Homo sapiens: one gene and its partners. The protein of the gene in region 3 interacts with the protein of the main gene of each other region in a pairwise test. Each region holds a gene or a part of one and is shown on either strand. Other genes may lie near its edges. The genes, in order: SRRM4, OBI1, SNRNP70, SMAD5, CEP63, USP25 and GTPBP2.

Region 1 (3,500 bases), on a different chromosome or scaffold from region 3:
GTATTTTTCTTCTAGCTATTTGAAACTGTAAAACATATTATTGTCTTAAGCATGATAATGTAGGGAGAAATAGAGACAGAGGAATGTAAAAAAAAAACAGCGAAGGGAGAGACCCTTAATGAAGCATGGAGTCCCTTGCTTATAGTCACACAGTTATTTTTAGTTATCCGATCTGCAAAATGGGGATGATTCTTCTATTTCATCAACGTTATCTACAAATACAAGGAATGATCAGAGAAAATCAGACCTTTGCCCCCAGCAGGGTCTCAAATACCATTTCTTTTAATAGGAGAGAAAGCAGGCTAAACTCTCTGAGGGGAACATTAACTGTGGGGGAATAGTCAACGCTAGTGGAGGGGAGCCGTGGAAGGGAGCTGCTCATATAATATACATTTTCCAGCTCAAGGATGCAGTCTCTGGCGTGGGCTATTAGGCTTCTTGTCCTTCATGGACCAGCTCTAGCTAATAGGAAATCTAGTCTGCATTCCATGAACAACCACCAGTGATGGGGGGATTATAGCGAGCCTGCAAATGTGGAAGATAAAATTAATCACAGGGGAATTAATACACAAAGTGGAAGAAGCTGCACGTTGGCTAAAAAAAAATTAGGTTGTACTTTCATTCATTTATTCAGTCATTCAACATTTTTATTGAACCACTACTCAACGTAACAGTGAATGAACACAGGAACTCCCTGTTCCCGTGGAGGAGAAAGACAATAAATGAAGAACCAAATAAATAAATGAGAGCTGGTGGTAATGCATTCTGTAAAGAACAATAAAGCCAAGGAAAGGAATAGAGGGTGAGGGAATGAGCTGCTTTGTTGGACAGCATGATCCCTGAGTGAAGGGAGAGGTGAGCTGTGAGGATAAGTGAGAGAAAAGTGTTTGAGGCAGAGGGAACAGCAAGTGCAAAGGCCCTGAGGTAGAAGGATGCTTGGTGTATTTGAGAAATAGCAAGGAGGTCAGTGTGGCTAGAGCAGAGTGAGTGAATGGGAGAGTGACAGAAGATGATTCCCAGGATGCAGGCAGAAAACAGATCAAGTGGGGCCTTGTAAGCCAGTTCAGGAAATTCCTAGGTCCTGGGCTGGGGGCAGGAGGTGGTCCCAGGAGGGTTCTTGCCTTCTCAAGCAGAGTTCCAGATCTGATCTGCTTCTGTTTGACTCCTCTTTCCTGACTCTGATGCAGCCAGTGATGACTTTGAACAGCAATATCAGAAGATTGGCTGGGTCCCTCCATGTGTTATGGACAAGCATGAAATTTACAGTCCCTTTGATTGTGAACAATCACATCAGGAAACTTTAAAGATGCTGTTTAGACTTCCAAATAGCAGTGATAGATTTTGTTCCCACGGTGCAAGGGTTTGGTCTCTCATATTCATGCATGCAAACCTAGACTATCCCTTGCACCCAGTAGCCCCCTCCACTGCACACTCTTGAAGCTACAGTCTGCTCTTTCTGTCTCTCTCCCTCTGTGTATCTCTCCCGGCACCTGTCCCCCCACACCTTCCAGCCCCCCACTCCATTTGAAATTTTGCTGAGGGAGCTCCCATATGCTACAGCCTCTGTGCGGAGCTCTGTGAAATAGAACACTGAATTAAGATGTCATAGAGACAAAGCCAAACCAAATACAGGAACAATGCCGAACCCTAAAACAGTCATTAAGTAATTCATGTCTACGTGTGTCTGTTCAAAACAAATATTAAGATCCTCTGGACGCAAATCTTTCTCATCCGGAGAATCCTCTGGTTGCTGGATTCCCAAAGCTTAGATGCCGCTGTCGGACAGCTTTGCTGAGTACAAATACCAACAGATCACTGTTCTCTGGCTTCGTTAAAAGTTAAGCTTAGGCAACTGAGCAGGAATTTAGAAGACAGTTGCCACTTCTGCAGAAAGAGAGGTGCCATTTGGGCCTGAAGCGTGCATCTTCATGGTGTGTGTGCACGCTCACTTGTGGTGGGAATGTGTGTGCTAAGAGCCTTGTGTTACTATGTGCCTTGCCCTGTGCTGAACACATTTCATCTCTTATCCAGTTCTGTACTTATAATAATTCCAGAAGAGAGGTGTCTTCAAGACCCTATTTTACAGATGAGAAAACAGAGGCTCTGAGAATAGAAATGATCTGCTCACAGACACATGGCTGGTAAGAGTCAGAATTGGAATGAGAACCCAGAGCTCTTAACCAACATGTTTATAGGATAAGACACTTTGCAGAGGAGGAAAAAATGGTATCACAGAGGGGAGGTAAGCCCTGGGAATCCAGCAACCAGGGGAGTCTCTAGATGAGAAACCTTTGCGTCCGGAGGTTCTTACTATTTGTTTTGAACAGACACACGTAGATGTGAATTGCTTAATGACTGTTTCAGGGTTCGGCATTGTCCTATTTGGTTCGGCTTTGTCTCTATGTCATCTTAATTCAGTGTGCCCATGATCACACGGTGTGTAAGTGATGAAAGCAGGAGATGAATTCAGGTCTGTCTGATTGCTAGTATATTCTTCTCTCCTGGCTGGACTTCCTGTCATTCTGGTTTGGGTTTTAAGGTTGGGGGTGTTTTTGTTTTGTTTTGCTCATCTTGTTTTATGTTCAATCAGTTTAGTAACTGCCATTGTTATAATCCCATCTCATACCACTTGCAGCAATACTGCTTTCCTCTTTCCTTGCCCCTCTTATCCATTATCCACATAGACCCAGAAGAACCTCTTTGAAAAGCACATCAGACCATGTAAGCCCTCTCTCCCTCCATCTAAAGCCCTCTATCACTTTCTCTTGTTTGTGTTTTTTTGGTTTGTTTTTGTTTTGAGATGGAGTCTCGCTCTGTCACCCAGGCTGGAGTGCAGTGGTGCGAACTCAGCTCACTGCAACCTCTGCCTCCCAGGCTCAAGGAATTCTCCTGCCTAAGCCTCCCAAGTACCCACCCCGCACCCAGCTAATTTTTGTATTTTTTTAGTAGAGACAGGGTTTCACCATTTTGGCCAGGCTGGTCTTGAACTCCTGACCTCAGGTGATCCACCCTCCTCGGCCTTCCAAAGTACTGGGATTACAGGTGTGAGCCACCATGCCTGGACCCATGTTTTTTTAAGTATACAGAGCCAGCTCCCTGCCATGGCCTCTAGCCTCTTCATGGTCCACTTCCTGCCCACCTCCCTGAGACCATTTCTAAAACACCACCTCTCACTTCCTCTGTTTAGTTGCATCTTATTCCTTTTAGTTACTCACATTTTCCAGGCTCCTTCCTGCCATGGAGCCTTTGCACATGCTGCTAGGAAAGCTCTTCCTCTCCCCTGGTGCCTGATTTATACCTACTCCACTTTCCAGAGCTCAGAGGAAATGCTGTTTCCTCGGGGATCCTTCCAGAATGCTGCAGACTAAGTCATACCCCTCATTACAGACATTACTTTCTTATCACTGTTTTCAACACATTTGTAATTATATATGGATTTGGGCGATCATTGGCTAAAGCATACCTCTCCTAACGGTTGAGGCCTCATGAGGAGAGGGACT
Region 2 (3,500 bases), on a different chromosome or scaffold from region 3:
AGGCCACACCACAAAAGCTGGTCCAGGTCCAAAGATAGCTTTCGCTTTGTTTCATTACCTCAGCTACCAAGTGAGGGAAACATATAAAGTCAAAGTTTGATGAGGCAAGTGGACTGACTTCCCCAATGTCCCCCTTGTTCCTCCTCAAGAAGGCATTTCTGAATTTTGGCAGTCTTGGCCACCCACTGGGCTTGCTGCATTTACCCATTTTGTTGGAATTGCCATTGAGAACCAGAAAGGCAAAGTGAATTGCTCAAGGATAGTAGCGTAGCACTAGAGCTTATTAGTTTTTTGGTACTCAGGTGTGGTATTCTTTTACCACATTTGTTTTCTTCAAACACGTCCTGTTTTTCTGTGTGATAGACTATGAGAAAATATGGTCTTAGGAACTTTTTGTTGTTAGAGATGCTCTTTAGTTTAGTTATACCACCTCAAAGGTCATACCAATAGGACTTCCATTTCTCTTTTACTAGGGACAGAAATGATCTTGTATCTCTTAGAGCTATTTGGACAAGGGGAACTGGCATCCTTTTCTCTCTCATCCAGAATGTATGTATCAGTTAATATTGCAAGCTGAAAAATCCTTTAAGCTTCTGTTAGATTCTGGCAGAATACAGTTCCGATATCAATTGTAGCTCCCAAACTGCTCTGCAGTGTTTTTTCTGGCACAATGAAGCCTTTGGCCATCACTGCTACTTTGAAAATCAAAGCCTTTTGGTCTCTAATGGAATGTTTATAAAAATACTCCATTTTGAAATTTACTCAAGAAAAGGAGGAAGTATGGTAAATGATATTAGAAATCCCTCCGGCTTGCCTTGGCATAGCTTCATTTAGTGTTGTATACTCCAAATATCTAGAATTAGTGTGAATACAAAAGTATTAAAACCCAAAGATAAATAAGCTCATGTCCTTCTTCTATGGAAGTATAGCATCAGATACTTATCCCTAATTGTTATTTCTCTATAATAAGGTAAATTGCCCTTTGCCAAATTTAATATAGTTATCTTGGATAAGCTGAAAATTTCCTGACACATGTCAAAAGTCTCATCTATTTGCAGTCTTACTAAGGTGAAGTTTTTTGGGGTGGAGCAGTATAGAATGTCAAGCCTGTAGCAAAAAAGGCTGTACTGTACATATGTCAGTCTCTGTTGCTTTCCTGGGTGTCAGTGAAATAAAGTAAACAGTCAAATGTAGTAAACAAAACATGTTTACTTTAGTAATACAGTGACTGTCATAATACTTAACATGTAAAAAGAAGGCCAAGGACCTTTAGCTTATCCTGTGGTGTCAACCCTGTCTCAATGTAAGGCACTAGTGTATCTTAAAGTAAGAGAATGACTTTTATTCAAGAAATACACAACAGGCAAGTGCCGTATACCAGGAATTGTTCTAGGAATCTGGCAGTGAATATAAGACAAACTACCTGCTCTCCTTGAGCTTCTATTCTAACGTGGGAGAAAGAAAGCAAATAAATTACATGAATTGATTAATTGATCAGTTGCATGGCTTTTAGTATACATTTCTGTCAGTCTGCCAACCAGCACAGGTCCCTTATTAGCATGGGAGAAGGGCCTGATCACTGAAAGTATTATAGATTTATAGAGTATTGAAAGGAAACTTAAGGAAATTGGGGGCAGTGGCCTTTTAGAAAACAGCCTAACTCCATCAGTGACTTCTGCTTGCTTGTGCCTCTCATATGTGATCTGCTACTGGCCTTTGTTACTTCTCTCTGAAATAACACAAAAATTATGTTTAGGGCTCTCATTGACTTCAACTCCAAACCATATGTTACTTCTTTTAAAAACATAATTTCTAAAAAAAAAAAATATATAGAGAGAGAGAGGCAAATACAGTATCTTAAGATGATACTATATTTGAAATTCCAAGCTAAAACCCTGGAACAAGAAGCTGGTAATATTTTGGGAAGCATTCTTTATTTTTGAGTAGTCTTTCTGTGTGTAGGCCTCTAAGTTCCCAAAGATATCCTTTGGTAGCAACTGACTTACTATGTAGTAGCATTATTTGATTTTAAGTCATTTGATTTTTTTATCTGAGGAGATACCTTTATTATAAAAAATTTTACTTGAAGAAATTTATCTTGATAAGCAAATGTAAGGCTGTCACTTTTGCTTATTGGCATTAAATAAACATACTACAGTTTTTCCATTTAAAAATGTGGGTTATTTGATTATGCCAGAGTAGTTACAATCAAGAACTAACAAACATTTGTACTTAATGTACTGAAAGGTCTTTGCCCACTTTTTAAAAGTTCTCTTGCAGAACTACAACTCTGTGAAGTACTACATTTATAAGCCAAAACATTTTTAACAAAGAAGAAAAATTCCCATCATTCATTTAACCAAATACAGTAGTAAACTTTGTCTTTAAAATGGGGAGGCTTGTTATTATAGTTGCTTTTGTTTTTGTTATACCTGTGGTTTTTGCTGTGTTTTTTTAGAAGTTGAAGGGAGCGTGCTCTCTCTGGGGGTTCAGTTAATTGCAGTGAGTAAATCAATATTCAGCAATCATGTCTTTTAAAGCCCTTTCTAATCTTGAGATTTTATGATTCTATATTTACCTTTGCCTCTGCTTTTTCCTTCAGTGATAAGAGTGCAGGGATTATGTAGGGGTTGAGATGGGGAATGAATTGGGCTAGTGGTTTAGGAGGTGATGGGCATTAAGTGGGAGTTGAAAACATGTTGTGGTTGATTCTAAGAGGGGCAATTGCTATTGGCTTCTGCTTTTTTTGTAGTTTTTTTTTTCAATACTAAATACATGTTCTTAATTGTAATTATTTTTCAAATTAGGGGAAAAAAGGAAGAAAAAGATAAACCCAAAGATAAAAATAATTTTTGAAAGTCACCTTCTCATAGCTTCCTCCAAACAGACAATCCCTTAATTCTTAGAAATGGGCCAATATATAAATCATCAAAAAGATGATTAAGAATAGGCTTTGAAAAGAATTTTGGAGGAGATAAGGTATTTTTCACGGGATTATGTTATTTATTGGCTCATAAGTTTCCTGAAAGATAGAATTTATTTTTGGTGATAAGATTGAATTTAAGGTAGATATTTTATGTCCCTTGGAGCTAGACAGTCTTTTTTATCTTTTGTGTTCCCAGCCCCAAATATACCACCTAACCTATACTAGGTACTCAAAAATTGTTTCCTGAGCTTAACACAGTACTCATTCTTGGTGGAAATAACAGCAAGATAATCCCGGTGTAAAAGGAGTAGACTTTTTGTGAATAAGGGAATTCTTTTTCAGTCACTCTCCAAAATGTTCTCTTTCAGAAAGTGTACAAAAAAATTTTTTTTTTTGCCTAGTATATTGGAATCACAAGCACTGACTTCATATTTCAAAGTTGAAAGAAATGAGATAGATGTCCCACACAGCTGTAAAATGCCAAAAATAAGTAGTGCTGACATAAATTAAAGGCCAGTGCTCTGAAAAGCCACAGAAAAGCTTCAGATCAAGGGTGGCTATAATTGAAAGGGCC
Region 3 (3,500 bases):
GGCCTTCCAAAGTGCTGGGATTACAGACGTGAGCCACCGCACCCGACCTTTTTTTTTTTTTTTTGAGATGGAGTATCGCTCTGTTGCCCAGGCTGGAGTGCAGTGGCGTGATCTAGGCTCACTGCAACTTCCACCTCCCGGGTTCAAAGGATTCTCCTGCCTCAGCCTCCTGAGTAGCTGGGATTACAGGCACGCGCTACCATGCCTGGCTAATTTTTGTATTTTTTGTAAAGACGGGGTTTCACCATGTTGGTCAGGATGGTCTCAAACTCCTGACCTTGTGATCTGTCTGCCTTGGCCTCCCAAAGTGCTGGGATTACAGGCATGAGCCACTGCACCCTACCAGCCAGTTCCTATTTAATGTGTGGTTGATGAGACCTTTAAGAGCTGCCTTGGCCCTCAGAGGGTGTGCAGTTGTGGGCTTTGGAGCCCTGTTCTGTCAGCTTATGTTGCTTTAGGCCTGGTCATCCTCACTGGCACTCATAAGCAGGGCCCTGCCATCACTCCACTCCCATCACATCCTCTGGCACTTTGTTCAATGTGAGTGATACTTGGAGCTGTGAGAAGCAATGTCTTTCCTAAATATGGAAGACAGGGTGTTTCCTAAATACTATAAAGCTAGATGTCACCTGTACCAGTGCTTTTCAAACTGTCTTTGGTGAAGGACAGATACTGTTTCCAATCTGTTTGCTTTTGATAAATATGATAGAATTACTTTTTAAAGAAAGATCTACAGTCAGGAGTTCAAGACCAGCCAGGCCAACATGGTGAAACCCTGTCTCTACTAAAAATGCAAAAACTAGCCAACATGCTGTCGTGTGCCTGTAATCCCAGGTACTCACTCAGGAGGCTTAGGCAGGAGAACCGCTTGAACGATTCTAGTCAGTTGCTGGGTTCCTTTTAGAGAGACGGGCACAGGGGGGAAAGCAGGGCTTAGAATCGCTTGAACCTGGGAAGCGGAGGTTGCAGTGAGCCCAGATCGCGCCATTGCACACCAGCCTGGGCAACAGACCACAACTTCGTCTCAGAAAAAAAAAAGACCTACAGAATAAAAGACCAAATTTGTATTAAGAGTCAGTGGACATCAAATTGTGAAATTACTGTAGAAGTTCCTGAACACTTAGTCCTGGTTTCTGTACTTATCACAGTCCAGCAACAGTTTAGATAGTACTGGTCCATGGACCATGCTTAGTTTTTGAGACAGGATTTTTTTTTTTTTTTTTTTTTTTTGAGACGGAATCTTGCTCTGTTGTGCAGGCTGGAGTGCAGTGGTGCGATCTCGGCTCACTGCAACCTCCGCCTCCTGGGTTCATGCCATTCTCCTGCCTCAGCCTCCCGAGTAGCTGGGACTACAGGCGCCCACCACCACGCCCGGCTAATTTTTTGTATTTTTAGTAGAGGTGGGGTTTCACCATGTTAGTCAGGATGGTCTCGGATCTCCTGACCTCATGATCCGCCTGCCTCGGCCTCCCAAAGTGCTGGGATTACAGGCGTGTGCACTGCACCCGGCCTTTACACCTGGCTAATTTTTAAATTTTTTGTGGAGATGGTGTTTCACTGTGTTGTCCCAGGCTGGTCTGAAACCCCTAGGCTCAAGCATTCTCCCTGTGTCATCATCCCAAAGTGCTGCGATTACAAGTGGAAGCCACTGTGCGTGGCTGCAGACCTTGCTTTGATCTGTGCCACTCCCCTCCCTCCACTGTGTCAGGGGAAGTGTGCGTGGATGTTTATTTTTGTAGGGGGTGGGGGTGGGAGGGTTAACCTGTTTATTTCCTTGGTGAGTGTCCCTTGCCATTTCCCCCAGTCCTTCCCACCCTGTCACCTCTCTTCTTGTTCCCAGGACCCTCGAGATGCCCCTCCTCCAACTCGTGCTGAAACCCGAGAGGAGCGCATGGAGAGGAAAGTATGTCATTTTTGCTTCCTGACCCCCTGTTTTACCACTGTCTCCAGATGATCCTTGACACTAGGGCACTTCTATCTGCATTCACTTCTCCACCTCCCCTTTCTCCTGACAGAGACGGGAAAAGATTGAGCGGCGACAGCAAGAAGTGGAGACAGAGCTTAAAATGTGTAAGTCTCTCATCCACCATTTGGCTCTCTCCTCTCCCAAACCCTCTGTATTCTTCCCAGGTCATACCCAGGACCCTGCTGTCTCCCTAAGGCCTGTGTTGTGGGGAACAGGGTTGTTAGTTCATTTGTTTAGCCCCTGCCACTTCACAAGCACTGTTTTTGGTTTAGGCTTTTCAGCAGCAGAACATAGGGTAAAAGTTGGCAGGAAGGGAGACCCCTGGTACCTTGGGCTCCTCCTGCATGGGAGGACAGTTAAGGGGCTCCCACAACCCAGCTGGGTGTCACAGGCTGAAGTGGTGGGTTGTGGGATAGTGGTCTGTCCTGGCTCTAACCTTAGGTCCCCAACCCTTGGGCTGAGGATGTTCCATCCCCTCCACATAGAGGAGGAATTGGAGTACAAGACAGGTGTGTTGTTGCCATTAACCAAACTCATAAGAGGGTCAGATGTCAACCTCCAGTGGCTCTTTATTCTGAAAGTGAAAACTGTACAGTCACAGGCAGCATAGCAGTGTTTCACTCAGCAGGGGACCGTGGATGTGATGGTGATCCTATAAGATTATATCATATTTTGCCAGGCACTGTGGCTCACGCTGTAATCCCAGTACTTTGGGAGGCCGAGGCAGGCGGATCATGAGGTCAGGAGTTCGAGACCAGCCTGGCCAGCGTGGTGAAATCCTGTCTCTACTAAAAGTACAAAAATTAGCTGGGCGTGGTGGCGAGCGTCTGTAATCCCAGCTACTCGGGAGACTGAGGCAGGAGAATCTCCTGAACCCAGAAGGCGGAGGTTGCAGTGAGCCGGGATCGCGTCGGCTCACTGCAACCCAGCCTGGGCAACAAGCAAAAATCTGTCTTAAAAAAAAAAAAGATTATACCGTCTATTTACTGTACCCTTTCTATGCTTTGATAACGTTTAGATGCACAAATACTTACTATTGTGTTAGGATTGCTGTAGTATTTGGTGTAGTAACACGCTTGGCCTCGGAGCAGTGGGACGCACCCTCTAGCCCAGGAGTGTTAGGTATGCTGTCTAGGCTCGTGGAAGTGCCATCTCATGTTGGCATATCGACATCATCATCAAACGACGCACTTCTCAGAACATGACTCTAGTGAGAAGACAGGTTTTCCTCCTATACCTGTGAACTTTGATGAATCCCTTTCCTCCAAATCCTGGAGTGCAGGATTTCCTCACGGTGCTTACGCAGAAGCGTGACAGAGACATCTGGCGGTGCACTCTTTGGACATTGGCTGTCGGAACGCTGTCTTGATGTCCTGCCTCAGAGGCATCTCAGACTCAGTGTCCAAACCACAGGGGTTTTCCCTCGCCACCAACCTGGTTTCCTTTGGGTGTTTTCTCTGGGACATAGACATTCAGCTGTGCCGGTCATGACCTCATTTTTTGCCATGCAGTTTGTTTCTAACACCTTTTCTAA
Region 4 (3,500 bases), on a different chromosome or scaffold from region 3:
ATAGGAGGTAGAGCAACCTGGTTTTGCCTCTGGTTATCATTTGACATTGCCAGTGTCTTACTTGTTCATATTATGGGGAAGGAATCGAGTGGTCACAGAACTTTTGGAGAAAATTTATCAATTTTTTGTTTACTTTGTAATGCTTTTCTGTTCTTATTTAATAAAATATGCCTTTCGATTATATTAATTTAAATTTGTATATATTGAATTGATTTAAACTAGGATCCTTTCCCCCTTTCTCTTTCAGGACTTGACCCAATGAAAGAAGCATATGGCACTTGTGAAGATAAATGTTACTCCTCCCTTTTTAATTGGAACTTCTGCTTAGGACCTGTGTATGACGTTTCACCTGTGATCTGTTCTTTCGGTAGCCACTGACTTTGAGTTACAGGAAGGTCTCCGAAGATTTGTGTCAAATGACGTCAATGGCCAGCTTGTTTTCTTTTACTAGTCCAGCAGTAAAGCGATTGTTGGGCTGGAAACAAGGTGATGAGGAGGAGAAATGGGCAGAAAAGGCAGTTGATGCTTTGGTGAAGAAACTAAAAAAGAAAAAGGGTGCCATGGAGGAACTGGAGAAAGCCTTGAGCAGTCCAGGACAGCCGAGTAAATGTGTCACTATTCCCAGATCTTTAGATGGACGCCTGCAGGTTTCTCACAGAAAAGGCTTACCCCATGTTATATATTGTCGTGTTTGGCGCTGGCCGGATTTGCAGAGTCATCATGAGCTAAAGCCGTTGGATATTTGTGAATTTCCTTTTGGATCTAAGCAAAAAGAAGTTTGTATCAACCCATACCACTATAAGAGAGTGGAGAGTCCAGGTAGGTCTTATTCCTGAGAAGAATTTGGAAAAACAAAAACAAAAAACCTCTCTTCCTGATATGCATGTAACTAGATTTAGTAATGAAAAGGTTGTATTAGCTTTGTGTTTCCATCTTAAATATTCTAATCTTGGAAGGGCTATTGGATTTTGAGTTTAGCTTTTTATATGTAGGTGATACAATTCTCAGGTGGCTTACTCTAATTCATTATTCACTGTAAGCACCCATATATCTACTCTGCCTTTTCCTGTGGATGACCTGTCTCTGTTTTATTTAAAGCCTAAGCTCCAAGTGTGTACTATATCCCATTCCTTTTTGTCAAATGAAGAACTTTGTTCCTACAGTTATCATCCTTCTCTCCAGCATTATATTTTCCCTTTCTACCAGAGTATTTCTGATAGCATACAAGCATGCCATGATACTACCCATCCTAAAATAAAACTTAAAAAAAAATTCTGCTTTTCACTTCATTCACATAACCCAACCCCAATCACTGCACTGTTTCCACTGGTCCTTTTAGAGGATTCTCCATTTTTATTATCTTTATGTTTCATTTTTTTCTTGTGACTTCTCTAGTTAGTCTTTCTTTCCTACCATTTAACTTGTCGAGATCACTAGTGACTGCCTTTTTATAGGTCAAGGGGTCATTTTTGAGTCTTATCTTACTGTCCGCTCAACTGCATTTGATACAGTTGATCTCCTTCCATCCTACTCAAAACTTTTTCTGTGTTTGGCCCCTAAGACAGTATGCTATCCTGGTTCTCCTACCTCACTGACTGTTCTTGCCCCTCTTTGCTGGCGTATTCTCCTGTTTTCACAGGAGTCAGTCCATGGACCTTTTCTCCATTTATATTATTTCTTTATGTGCTTTCATGCTGTCACATGTCTTAAGATTGTCTATAAGCTGATGCTCACATTTTGAACTCAAGTCAACTTCTCCCTTGAGTTTTAGATTTGTGTATCCAGTTGCCTACTTGACATTTCCACTTGAATATTTATTTATTAAACATACCAAATGTAATATGTCTAAGCGCAGTTTTTTTTCTCTGGTTTCCCCTATTGAAGTGAATGGCAACAGCATTCATGTAATTGCTAATGCCCTAAACTGCAAGGTCATCTTTTATTCTTCTTACTTAAATCCTATATTTAAAATATGAGCAAATGCTGTTTGCTGCACCTTCAAAATATGTCTTAATAAATATGTCACCTCTCATCATTTGTGACATCACTACTTTAGTACAGTACATCATCATCATCACTCACCTTAAGTAGTGTCCTAATTGGTCTTTCTGCGTCTCTTCTTCCCCTTAACCCATTGTGTTTTCCACACAACAGCCAGAATGATTTTTTAAAAACATACTAAATCATGTCAGTTCCTACTGAAAACACTTTCAAGGCTGTCACACTTAAAGAGATTTCTGTAAGACTCTGTATGACCTATCCTCAGAGTTCTCTGTTCCTTGGACTTGCCATACTCCTGTTTCCAGGCTTTAACTCTTGCTGTCTACTTATTCTCCCCCAGGATCTTTCCATGGCACATTTTCTCATTCCATTCAGTCCTTGCTCAAATATCCGCATCACTAATTGACTCTATATTAGATATTTATTTTGTTTATTGACTGACATGAGCAGAGTCTTCCTCTATTTCATTCATTACTCTATCCTTAGTGCTTAGAATAGTATATTGTTGTCTGGCACTTGGTAGGTGATGCTCAGTAAATTTTTTTTATAATGAATGGTATAAGCTGAGCTGCTAGCTGAGTGCATTAGTCATCTATTGCTGCATGACAGATTGCCACAAACTTAGTGGCTTAGCACAATGCATGTTTATTACCTCACAGTTTCTTTGGGTGAGGAGTCCAGTCACATTTAGCTGGGTCCTTTGCAAGGCGCTGTAATCAAGGTGTTGGTTAGGGCCAAGGTCTTATCAGAAGCTCAATTAGGGAAGGATCTGCTTCCAAGCCCATGTGATTGTTGACAGATTTAGTTGCTTTCACATAGCCTTCTTTATAGGTAGTTCACATTCATGACAGCTTCTTCAAAGCCAGTAAGGAAGAGAGGGTCTTCTGGTAAGAAGGACATTATATTCTTGTGGAATGTAATCATACATACGCTGTCACCTTTGCCATATTCTGTTGGTTAGAAGGAAGTGATAGGTCATACTCATACTCAAGCAGGGAGAATTACCCAATGGTTTGAATACCTGGAGGTGGGAATCACAGTGGTTACCTTAGAGTCTATCTGGGTTTCACGTGGAGATGTGTGGTAAAAAGACTGAAAATAACATTGGATGTGGAGACTAGTAGAAAGGATAGCAGATAGCAGTGATTATGCTGTCTGTGAAAGTTCAACTTAAGAGCTTTAGAGTGTCTTTAGACAGTTGGTATGATATGATTCTCAGTTTCTTACTGAGTCCAAGGAAAGCTGATAGCTGAAGGAACTGATGAAGAAAGGAAGATAAAAGGATTTAATAGAGAAGTATAGGCTGAAAAACTCCCAAGCTTGCTATTTGCTAGGAGGGAGTCTAGGAATTTTATGTATTCCCCTATAGCCAAAGTGTGACTAGTAGTCAGCCAGCCAATAGAAATGTCTTATTTTTTGTATACATTTTTCTCAGCTATGATTCATTCTATAGAAAAGACTGGGGCATAGCTCTGATACTTTTAAATAACGGAAAATTT
Region 5 (3,500 bases), on a different chromosome or scaffold from region 3:
ATGGTTGGTGGAACTCGTTTCTCTGGAGTTGGGTGAATGGTAAAGCAGGCACAAACCTCCTTTTGTTTTCCTGTCTGACGTTACTATTCTGTACTTTATTGTAGAGAAATTATTCCTAAGGTCTTCTAGATTTTTTATGAAGTATTGTTGGTTTCCAGGACTCTCAACACTTTATATTTCTTATTTTCATGAGTTTTTTTGATGAAAAGGGTTGAGTAGGATAATCAGACAGAGAGACACAGTTTCGGCCGGGCGCGATGGCTCACGCCTGTAATCCCAGCACCTTGGGAGGCTGAGACAGGTGGATCACGAGGTCAGGAGTTCAAGACCAGCCTGGCCAAGATGGGGAAACCCTGTCTCTACTAAAAATATAAAAATTCGCCAGGTGTGGTGGCATGCGCCTGTAATCCCAGCTACTTGGGAGACCGAGGCAGACAATTGTTTAAACTTGGGAGGCAGAGGTTGCAGTGAGCCAAGATTGCACCACTGCACTCCAGCCTGGGCGAGAGTGAGACTCCCATCTCAAAAAGAAAAAAAGAAAAAGAGAGAGAGTCTTCATCTAAACCTAGAAATTCTAAAAACTAGCTGTTTGTTCACTATTTTTTGGCAGTGTAAAGAATTCTTAAATAACTAGGTATTTGACTTCCTAAGAAGTGGGGTATCACCATATATATGCATTTGAGAACTTGAATTTACAAATAAATACAGAGATTATTTTCTATTTTTATATCTCAGGGATGTTATTTCAATGCTAATAGTGAAAAATACTACCACCTTTCTGCTTTTAGGTTGGAATGTTGCATCAGCAGGTAGAAGAACATGAAAAAATCAAGCAAGAGATGACCATGGAATATAAGCAGGAGTTGAAGAAACTACATGAAGAAGTGAGATTTTAGTTTTGTTAAATGTTGTGTGTGTAGTTCTCTCTCTTTCACCCTTGAGAACTTTGTTAATGAAAGCCAGTTTCTACTTTGTAAAGTGGGAAATACATACTCCATCAAAGATACAGGAGTGGGAATCCATTTCTCTGTTCTTTAATCCAGGTAAAGAGGTTTGCCTAACTGTAGGTTTGATACTACCTAGAAGAGATGCTAAAATATGTTTCTTGGTTGAGTACCTGAAAGAAATAGAGCTGTTTTTATGTAATACTGTGAAATACTTGATACCAAAAATTACATTTAATATTTTAATTTTTATCAGTTACTAGATTATAAATAATGGAGGATCCAAAGATTTAAGAAACATTTTGGGATAAATAAGACAAGTAAGAAAATTCTGTCCATTAACTCAATTTTATTCTTCAGATTTGGAAAAAACTGCTTTTATTCTGATTTAATTGCAAAGTACTCTTCTCCTGCATCCTGAATATCAGTGCCCTGCAAGAGCATGGCTTGAGAATCACAGACCTAGAGGAAAGAAAAAGAGTTTTTATTTGCTGCTTTATTGTGGGGCTGGGTGGTAGGGTCTTTAAGTGCAGGGCTATTGTAATACAAAACTTTTGTTTAAAATTTTTTTTAAAATTTTTTCTTTGAATATATTTCTTTAGTAGTGTTTGTTTTACATATTTAATTTTTAGTTTCCTTTTGTGTTTTAGTTTGGAAATCTAACATGTTCTCAGTAGTACTGGTTAGCACTGCTCTTGTTTTCATAATACCAATTTGTCTCACCACTACTTCTTACAAATTCTTAAACTTTAAATATAGAAATAACTGTTTCTACAGTTATGCATACTGAAGAGAAGCTATGAAAAGCTTCAGAAAAAGCAAATGAGGGAATTCAGAGGAAATACCAAAAATCACAGGGAAGATCGGTCTGAAATTGAGAGGTTAACTGCAAAAATAGAGGTATGTTCATAGTAATAATTTGTTCATAGTGATTGTCAGCCTTCACGTAGGAAAATGCGGTTTCTAATGGCACTATTTTCTGGAACCAATTTTCTACTATCTTAAGGACTGCCACTAAGCTATTTCAGAGGTGAGAGGGTGATCCACCATACATCCTATCATCATCTAGTTCCCTGGGTTAACGGGGTTACTGGCCATCAGTAATTCTCAACAGGGCAGTACCACCCTTAGGGAGCATTTGCAAATGTACGGAGACATATTTTTTTGGTTGTCAAAATGACTGAGCTTAATAAAACTGGCATTTAGGGGACAGGGACCAGGGATACTAAACATGCCTAAGAGTGTTCCACACAGGAAGGATTATTGTACCTCAAATGCCAGTAACTCTCCAATTGGGAAACATGACCACTAGTTATAGGCAGTCCTCTATGGACATTGTTCTTGTCTTATATATCATTGTATCTCAAGCACCTAATAAAGTGGGGGCTTAGTAAATGTGGAAAGTACATGGCACTTTTCGTACAAAGTAATCTCTGTATCAGATTATTCTCAATTCCCATTTAGATGTAGTAAGGCATTCACTTCCTTCTCTGCTGACTTTGTTTTTATTAAGACTGAATAACTCCATGATTATTGTATATATTGAGAACTTAAGGGGAGCTGGTGAGCTAATAGTACCAAGAGTAGATGAAGGAAGAGCACAAGGCTGTCATTCTCTTCGTCTGTCCTTGCCATTAGTTCTTCACTGGACATAAGAATTCCCAGGGTGCTTTTAGGCTCTCAGAAATGCTGATCCAGCAGTATGGCATAGGACCTAGGGATCTGCATTGTATCCAGCTCCCCTAGCTTATTCTGATTTGAGAAACATTGTTCAACATCTTTGTGTGATCACTTACAAGTTTGTACTCTGGGTGACCTGTCACCCACAAATGCCAGTATATTATTATTACTTAAAATTATAATTTCTGTGTTTAATATTCCTTTATATCTCAATATTTTTTTACATTTGAAGAGCTTAGAATCAGAAGACTGCAGCTACTGCTTCCCTTCCACCCTTTTCGGCAATACCTTTTCCCCCCAAACCCTATATCCTTCTTGCTTCTCATTGCCACTTCCTGACTATTCTCTTTTCTTTCTACCTCAAAAACCCCATCTTTGATTTTCATGTTACCAGCCTATACTGCCAGCCAATGAACATAACAACCAAAATAGTCATCGTCTGACCTCTGGGTTATTTCCTTGGCTCATTGATTTCAGCACCCAGCTCACTGTCAATTCTCTCTGACATTACTCTTATCATAACTTTGAGGATCTTAGGATCTGGAGAGATGATGCTTATAATACTCTGACCTTACAGTTTCTTGGCTTTCTTTCCTCCATAGATAGTTTGATTATCTTTGTGTCTCATCTACTTATTCCCACTGCCATTCCTTAGCTCTTGTCATTACCAATATATGCCACCCCTCTAGAATCTCATTTTCAAGCATTCAATTATCAGACTACCAATCCCTATCTTTTCAGCTAACTCTCTCTAGTCCTTTGACTCTCAGTAATCATTAACCATCCCTTAAAATGATTAAATTCTGCCACCTTTTTACTGCTCCATTATCTACTTGGTGTTCTCACTTATCGGTCCTTAGCCAGCTTTTAAATTCT
Region 6 (3,500 bases), on a different chromosome or scaffold from region 3:
GTTCCAGCTTTTGTTTGTTTAATTTCATCTTTCGCAGACAGAGGTTTCCTTGCAGCATTACCTGGTTGGGCTTCAGCATTATCATTTGAACTTTAGAAGGAATTATTACTTCAATAGAAGATTGTTTTACAGTGCTACAATGTAGTATTGTGACTGTCGCAGGCATGCACAAATCTGTCCAGATACTTAACTTATTTTCATGTAGATCAAATAATTGTCGTTGATTTTGATCCTGAGAGGCAGATAATTCAGCATTTTTTAAAAAGATAATGGTATCACAGCAACATTTGGATACTACAGTGCTATGGAGAATACCACCATTATAGTGGCTGGTGAACTCTACCATTATGTAGGGCTGCACTTTTCCCCCACGTGTACAAGGCTACCGCGTAGAGCAGGTGAAGCTATGTGGGTCCACAACAATGTAGTTTTTAGTAGATGTCAAGAGGTATCTAAGCTCAAATCACAGTGTAGTAACTATATTATAGTTCCTTTCATTTTTAAAACATTTCTGTCCCTTTGTGATTTCATGCTTTGCATTCTGTACATATTCTTTCCAAATCACTCCTCAGAACCTGCCCCAAGATGGAGCTACTGTGTTATTGTTCCCTTAACATTTACTTATTCCATTCACATGTGACTATTCTTGTTATTAGTGGGAGGAAGGGGCTGCATAGTGTACTATAAGCAGTTGTGGTACCTAAGCTCCCAGACACAGGTGAATCCTCCATTCATTGGTTAAGCTCCAGTTTTATTCTTGGCTCACCTATATTTTGTGATACCAAAATATTAAGTTCTATATATCCTCCTCCTCTTCATCCTGTCTGTTTCTCATCTCTCCAAATTTTCAGAGTTAACATATTTTATTTCTGCTTAGTCAAACGAATACATATTTCCAACTAATATTCCTATCTATTAAGGACTAGCCTTGCCCCATCCTCATTTTACATTTGTCATCTTTTTTCTTTCTCTGTGAAAAGACCATGTGTGCATAACTGCATCCATTTTCATGATCAATACATCTGACCATACACTTTACATGGTGTTTTGTAATTTTTAAAAAATGCAGTACTAGGTATTGGACATATATTTTCATGTCTGTTTTTACCATGCAAAATAATCTTAGAATGTTGATATATTTCTGGGAGGAACCAGAATAAAAGATGAAGAGATGGAAATGGTCAATTCCTATTCCTAGATAACTTTTATAGTTACCTTTCAGCGTGGGTTATTTAGAAAGCAGTGGTAATACTACTTCTGTAGGAAACATTGTATCCTCCATAGACTTGACGGAAATATGCACTTGGTTTGAATTAGTAGAAGTAGAACATGCCAAGTCCATAAATTTACAGAGTGAGATTGTTGTTTAAAAGATTGGTTTCTATTACTGTTATCTTTGAGATTATATTAAGAAATTTGTTCTCTGTTGCAGGATAGTTTCACATATCATAATTGAATAAGACTAATGTTTCATTAGAACCATTTATTCCCTATTATTAATAGGGAAATTTTATTTTAATGTCCATGCCATCCTCTTCTGATTCTTCTCATGGTTTTCAAAGTAAGTAATTTAATTTGGTATAATACTTCCAGGATCTCAAAGCAAATCTGTATTTTAATCTCTCAGGTGTTCACTAGTATTACCAGTGACTAGTGGAAATAATAAAAGGAAATCTTGTTCATAAAATCCAACAGAATGATTTTTTTCCTCCCTGCAAAATCTTCTCGTTAAAGCTGAAACATAAGACCTCATAAAATTCAATTTCTACTGAGTGATATTCCAATTAAGAGTACTAATTCATATTATATTAATCAAATTAGTATTTGTTCCTCTTCTGCTAAAATGTGATCGAGAAATTCATGCGTATCAGTTCACCAGCACCATTCGTTCCCTACTGAGATAATAAATGATGGGAAAGTATTTTTTGGTTCATTTCATGCTGCTTCCCTAGATCTGCTTACTGCAAAGGCAAACTTACCTGAATACTTTTGTTGAGATTTTCAGCCAGCCATTCTTTGCTGTCAGTGTGGGGATCAGAATGAGTAGGGGAGCAAACTTACCTGAATACTGTTGTTGAGATTTTCAGCCAGCCATTCTTTGCTGTCAGTGTGGGGATCAGAATGAGTAGGGGAGCAAACTTACCTGAATACTGTTGTTGAGATTTTCAGCCAGCCATTCTTTGCTGTCAGTGTGGGGATCAGAATGAGTAGGGGAGCAAACTTACCTGAATACTGTTGTTGAGATTTTCAGCCAGCCATTCTTTGCTGTCAGTGTGTGGATCAGAGTGAGTAGGGGAGCAAACTTACCTGAATACTGTTGTTGAGATTTTCAGCCAGCCATCCTTTGCTGTCAGTGTGTGGATCAGAATGAGTAGGGGAGCAAACTTACCTGAATACTGTTGTTGAGATTTTCAGCCAGCCATCCTTTGCTGTCAGTGTAGGGAACAGAGTGAGTAGGGGAGCAAACTTACCTGAATACTGTTGTTGAGATTTTCAGCCAGCCATCCTTTGCTGTCAGTGTGTGGATCAGAGTGAGTAGGGGAGCAAACTTACCTGAATACTGTTGTTGAGATTTTCAGCCAGCCATCCTTTGCTGTCAGTGTGTGGATCAGAGTGAGTAGGGGAGCAAACTTACCTGCATACTGTTGTTGAGATTTTCAGCCAGCCATCCTTTGCTGTCAGTGTGTGGATCAGAGTGAGTAGGGGAGCAAACTTACCTGAATACTGTTGTTGAGATTTTCAGCCAGCCATCCTTTGCTGTCAGTGTGTGGATCAGAGTGAGTAGGGGAGCAAACTTACCTGAATACTGTTGTTGAGATTTTCAGCCAGCCATCCTTTGCTGTCAGTGTGTGGATCAGAGTGAGTAGGGGAGCAAACTTACCTGAATACTGTTGTTGAGATTTTCAGCCAGCCATCCTTTGCTGTCAGTGTGGGGATCAGAGTGAGTAGGGTTTTTTTTTCTGAGTGTGAACAGCACACCCTACCTAAGGCCACTTAAGAGACACTGGAGTCAGAATCTCTGGAGAAAGGATCTGATACAGTGCTATCTTAAAGAGATCTTCAGATAATTCTGAGGTTAAGCAGCATGGCTCTAGGCTGTATTTATAAAACAGAAATTATGCTGGAGAGAAGAGCGTTGTCCGAGTTACTATTTTACTTATATTACTCTTGTCTTATCCAAGAAGTATCTGAAGTCCTTACAATATAGCACACCCAGATTTCTTTAAAAAATAAGGAAACACTAGTGAAGATTGGAATGAAGTGTATTGCGTAAGGTTTTATAAATTTCTCTAGAGGAAGCAGGCAGAGTTGGCTCTGGAACTTCTCTACACTGTCTACAAGTTAAAAATAAGCTGATGTTCCAGGAGAGTACGGTTGGATCCTGAGAGTAAGACCTGGTAGAATAAACAGTATCGTCAGTGTTCTCAGATTCCTTGAAAGCAGGAACTAGGTGATATTCTTTTTTTTTTTTCTGAGACAGTTTCACTTTGTTGCCCAGG
Region 7 (3,135 bases), on a different chromosome or scaffold from region 3:
GCGAGCTTCGCTCAAGACCCTGCACCGGATGGCAGAGAAGTATGCTTCCCCTTCCCCACCAGTTCTCCTTTACCTGACTTGGGGGGACCCATGCATACCCAGTTACCTAGGGCCTGAGGGGCCAAGGTGGGACTTTCCTTCTCTTGACAAAGGGCTGAAGTGGGGAGGGTTAGTGTTTTGGTCCCCTCCTCACTGGACCTAGGCTGTTTTGCTCCTTGAATTAAGATATGTATATTTGTTTTAAAGGGAACTGTGAATGAGGAATAGATTGGAGGGTGGTAGGAAGTGCACTAAGGTATTGGGAGCTCTGTGGGAGGTGCAGGAAGTCTGTAGGTCCAGAGCGAGCCTGGAATAGGAGAAGGACAGGTGAGATATGGCAGCTGTGGCCTTGCTGTGACAGGGTTGGGGCAGACATAACCGTTCTTCGAGAGCGAGAAGTGGATTATGATAGCGACATGCCCCGGAAGATCACCGAGGTGCTAGTACGAAAGGTCCCTGACAACCAACAGGTGAGCACACACCCATCCCTGTCTCTCATGTCCACACTGTGGAAGGGCCCTGTGGTGGCAGGCTGTCTCCTGGCCTGGGATCCTGGGGGCTTCCAGTTCATCACTTGCTCCCTAGGGAGCGTCACTGCCCTTGACCCAGTCTTCAGTTAGAGGGGTGAGAGATTGGAGTTCTTATCTCTGGCAATTCATCCACAGTTCCTAGACCTCCGTGTGGCCGTCCTGGGGAATGTGGACTCTGGGAAGTCAACTCTGCTTGGAGTCCTGACCCAGGGAGAGCTGGACAATGGGCGGGGCCGGGCTCGGCTCAACCTTTTCCGCCACCTGCATGAGATTCAGTCTGGCCGAACCTCCAGCATCAGCTTCGAGATCCTGGGCTTTAACAGCAAGGGAGAGGTGCATGGGATCAATGGGACCCAATGGGGCCAGACTCTGAGGATGGGATGGTAGTAGTGAAGGACATAGGATGGGGGTAGAGTGTGGAGACTTTTTGAAATAGTATAGATGAATGCCCTGAGGGGACTGTGAACAAGCTCTGCCCCTCTTAGGAAATCAATGGGGAATCAACTAAATTAAATAAAAAATGGGGTCAAGATTAAGAGGCAGGGTCACCCAGGGAATGGTTTAGGTCCTGGCAACTCTGAAGGGGTTGGAAGGGCTGGCAGGAGGCACTGAGGGCCCTGGGCCCTGGGCCAGGTGGTGAATTACAGCGACTCACGGACAGCAGAAGAGATCTGTGAGAGCAGCTCCAAGATGATCACCTTCATCGACCTGGCAGGCCACCATAAGTACCTACACACCACCATCTTTGGCCTCACATCATACTGCCCCGACTGCGCCCTGCTCCTCGTCAGTGCCAACACTGGGATTGGTACGAGGCATTAGGGCAGGGACAGGGCTGAAGGGGGGTGCTGACTCTCCTACCCTGGGCCTCAAATCTTGGAGACAGACCAATGCTCCTCTTCTTCCCTCTCCTCCCTCCTGCATTCTCACTCTTCTCTCCTGCTGCTTGCTGTCCTTATGAGGCAGCTGGCACCACAAGGGAACATCTGGGGCTGGCCCTGGCCCTGAAAGTGCCCTTCTTCATCGTGGTCAGCAAGATCGACCTATGTGCCAAGACCACAGTGGAGAGGACAGTACGCCAGCTGGAGCGGGTCCTCAAGCAGCCTGGCTGCCACAAGGTCCCCATGCTGGTCACCTCTGAGGATGATGCCGTCACTGCTGCCCAGCAGTTTGCTCAGTCACCCAAGTAAGCCCACCTTACTCTAAAGCCCTGATCCACTAGGAAGGCTGCCACAGAGCCCAGGGCCCAGAAGCATGATATCCTACTTCTCCAGGGCCAGACCAGTTCTGGCTTAGTTCTGCGGGTGTTTCAGCTTGGGATTGTGGAGGGGCATCTTGCTAAAGGGCTTGACCCTCCTCCCGAGCCAACCTGGAGCACTGCTGATGCCTGGGACCATGGCGATGAAGTGCTATACCAGGCATTTGCTGTTTCCCTTGGGCTCGGATGGGCTTTTTGTGTGACATTGCTCGACTGGCTCACAAGAAGGCCCAGAGTTCCTGAGCCATTTGCAGACAGGAGAGAGGGGCCCCCAGCCAGAACAAAGCTCACCTTTCCATGTATGGGGCTCTGGCCTCTGCCTCCTGTTTGGACTGTCTTCATCTGTCCATTCCATGCCTCCCTCTACAGTGTCACCCCCATCTTCACATTGTCCAGTGTGTCTGGAGAGAGTCTGGACCTCCTCAAAGTCTTTCTGAATATTCTGCCGCCACTCACCAACAGCAAAGAGCAGGAGGAACTCATGCAGCAGCTGACGGAGTTCCAGGTAGTTGACTGCCCAAACATCTAATAGGCTGGGAAACAGGGAGGGGCTGCTTCAGACCAAACCCAGAGTCTGTTTAGAGATTTTGGACCCACCAGCCCTACTTGGCAGGCCATTGATAGCGTTTTCTTTGGCTTCAGGTGGATGAAATCTACACAGTACCAGAGGTGGGGACTGTTGTTGGAGGAACACTTTCCAGGTAAATTGTCTTGCTTGCTACCCTCCCCACTCAGCCCTCACCTATATACTCAAAGACATCCTGGCCCAAAGGAGGAGACCCTGGAATTGAACGGAACCCATTTAAAGGACATGCTTATTTGCAGATTAGGCTTTCACTATCAGAAGAGCTGGAGAACGGTAGTCTGTTGGCTTTGGAGGGAAGAAACAGTATTGCTGCCTATTGGGGAATCTCCAGGCCCCTGAGAGAGAAGTGTGGGTCTTGAGCTCCAGGAAGAAAACTAGAGTGTATTCAACTGACTTCATCTCACACAGGGAAATGAGAGACGTCACTTAAGACTCTTCTTTCTTTCTTTCTTTCTTTTTTTTGAGACAGAGTCTCGCTCTGTTGCCCAGGCTGGATTGCAGTGGAGCGATCTTGGCTCACTGCAACCTCTGCCTCCTGGGTTCCAGCAATTCTCCTGCCTCAGCCTTGAGTAGCTGGAATTACAGGCGCCTACCACCATGCCCGGCTAATTTTTGTATTTTTAGTAGAGATGGGGTCGTCACCATATTGGCCAGGCTGGTCTTGAATTCCTGACCTCAAGTGATCCACCTGCCTCAGCCTCCCCAAGTGCTAGGATTACAGG

The links.
Region 1: the proteins of SNRNP70 (region 3) and SRRM4 interact in binary tests that used the Homo sapiens proteins (3 or more experiments, as listed by UniProt).
Region 2: the proteins of SNRNP70 (region 3) and OBI1 interact in a two-hybrid assay, tested with the Homo sapiens proteins (one large-scale study listed by IntAct).
Region 4: the proteins of SNRNP70 (region 3) and SMAD5 interact in a two-hybrid assay, tested with the Homo sapiens proteins (one large-scale study listed by BioGRID and IntAct).
Region 5: the proteins of SNRNP70 (region 3) and CEP63 interact in binary tests that used the Homo sapiens proteins (3 or more experiments, as listed by UniProt).
Region 6: the proteins of SNRNP70 (region 3) and USP25 interact in a two-hybrid assay, tested with the Homo sapiens proteins (one large-scale study listed by BioGRID and IntAct).
Region 7: the proteins of SNRNP70 (region 3) and GTPBP2 interact in binary tests that used the Homo sapiens proteins (3 or more experiments, as listed by UniProt).

Annotation. Positions count from the first base shown.
Region 1 is NC_000012.12:118,988,041-118,991,540, forward strand, and holds part of SRRM4 (serine/arginine repetitive matrix protein 4), read left to right. Parts: intron 1-3,500. UniProt on the Homo sapiens protein: Splicing factor specifically required for neural cell differentiation.
Region 2 is NC_000013.11:78,617,656-78,621,155, reverse strand, and holds part of OBI1 (ORC ubiquitin ligase 1), read left to right. Parts: intron 1-3,500. UniProt on the Homo sapiens protein: E3 ubiquitin ligase essential for DNA replication origin activation during S phase.
Region 3 is NC_000019.10:49,088,451-49,091,950, forward strand, and holds part of SNRNP70 (U1 small nuclear ribonucleoprotein 70 kDa), read left to right. Parts: intron 1-1,840; coding exon 1,841-1,903; intron 1,904-2,015; coding exon 2,016-2,070; intron 2,071-3,500. UniProt on the Homo sapiens protein: Component of the spliceosomal U1 snRNP, which is essential for recognition of the pre-mRNA 5' splice-site and the subsequent assembly of the spliceosome. SNRNP70 binds to the loop I region of U1-snRNA.
Region 4 is NC_000005.10:136,153,345-136,156,844, forward strand, and holds part of SMAD5 (mothers against decapentaplegic homolog 5), read left to right. Parts: intron 1-247; 5' UTR 248-416; coding exon 417-819; intron 820-3,500. UniProt on the Homo sapiens protein: Transcriptional regulator that plays a role in various cellular processes including embryonic development, cell differentiation, angiogenesis and tissue homeostasis.
Region 5 is NC_000003.12:134,531,057-134,534,556, forward strand, and holds part of CEP63 (centrosomal protein of 63 kDa), read left to right. Parts: intron 1-788; coding exon 789-884; intron 885-1,703; exon of another isoform or gene 1,704-1,721; coding exon 1,722-1,844; intron 1,845-3,500. UniProt on the Homo sapiens protein: Required for normal spindle assembly.
Region 6 is NC_000021.9:15,834,482-15,837,981, forward strand, and holds part of USP25 (ubiquitin carboxyl-terminal hydrolase 25), read left to right. Parts: intron 1-3,500. UniProt on the Homo sapiens protein: Deubiquitinating enzyme that hydrolyzes ubiquitin moieties conjugated to substrates and thus, functions in various biological processes including inflammation and immune response.
Region 7 is NC_000006.12:43,623,130-43,626,264, reverse strand, and holds part of GTPBP2 (GTP-binding protein 2), read left to right. Parts: coding exon 1-39; intron 40-400; coding exon 401-509; intron 510-704; coding exon 705-902; intron 903-1,202; coding exon 1,203-1,377; intron 1,378-1,535; coding exon 1,536-1,755; intron 1,756-2,196; coding exon 2,197-2,332; intron 2,333-2,469; coding exon 2,470-2,528; intron 2,529-3,135.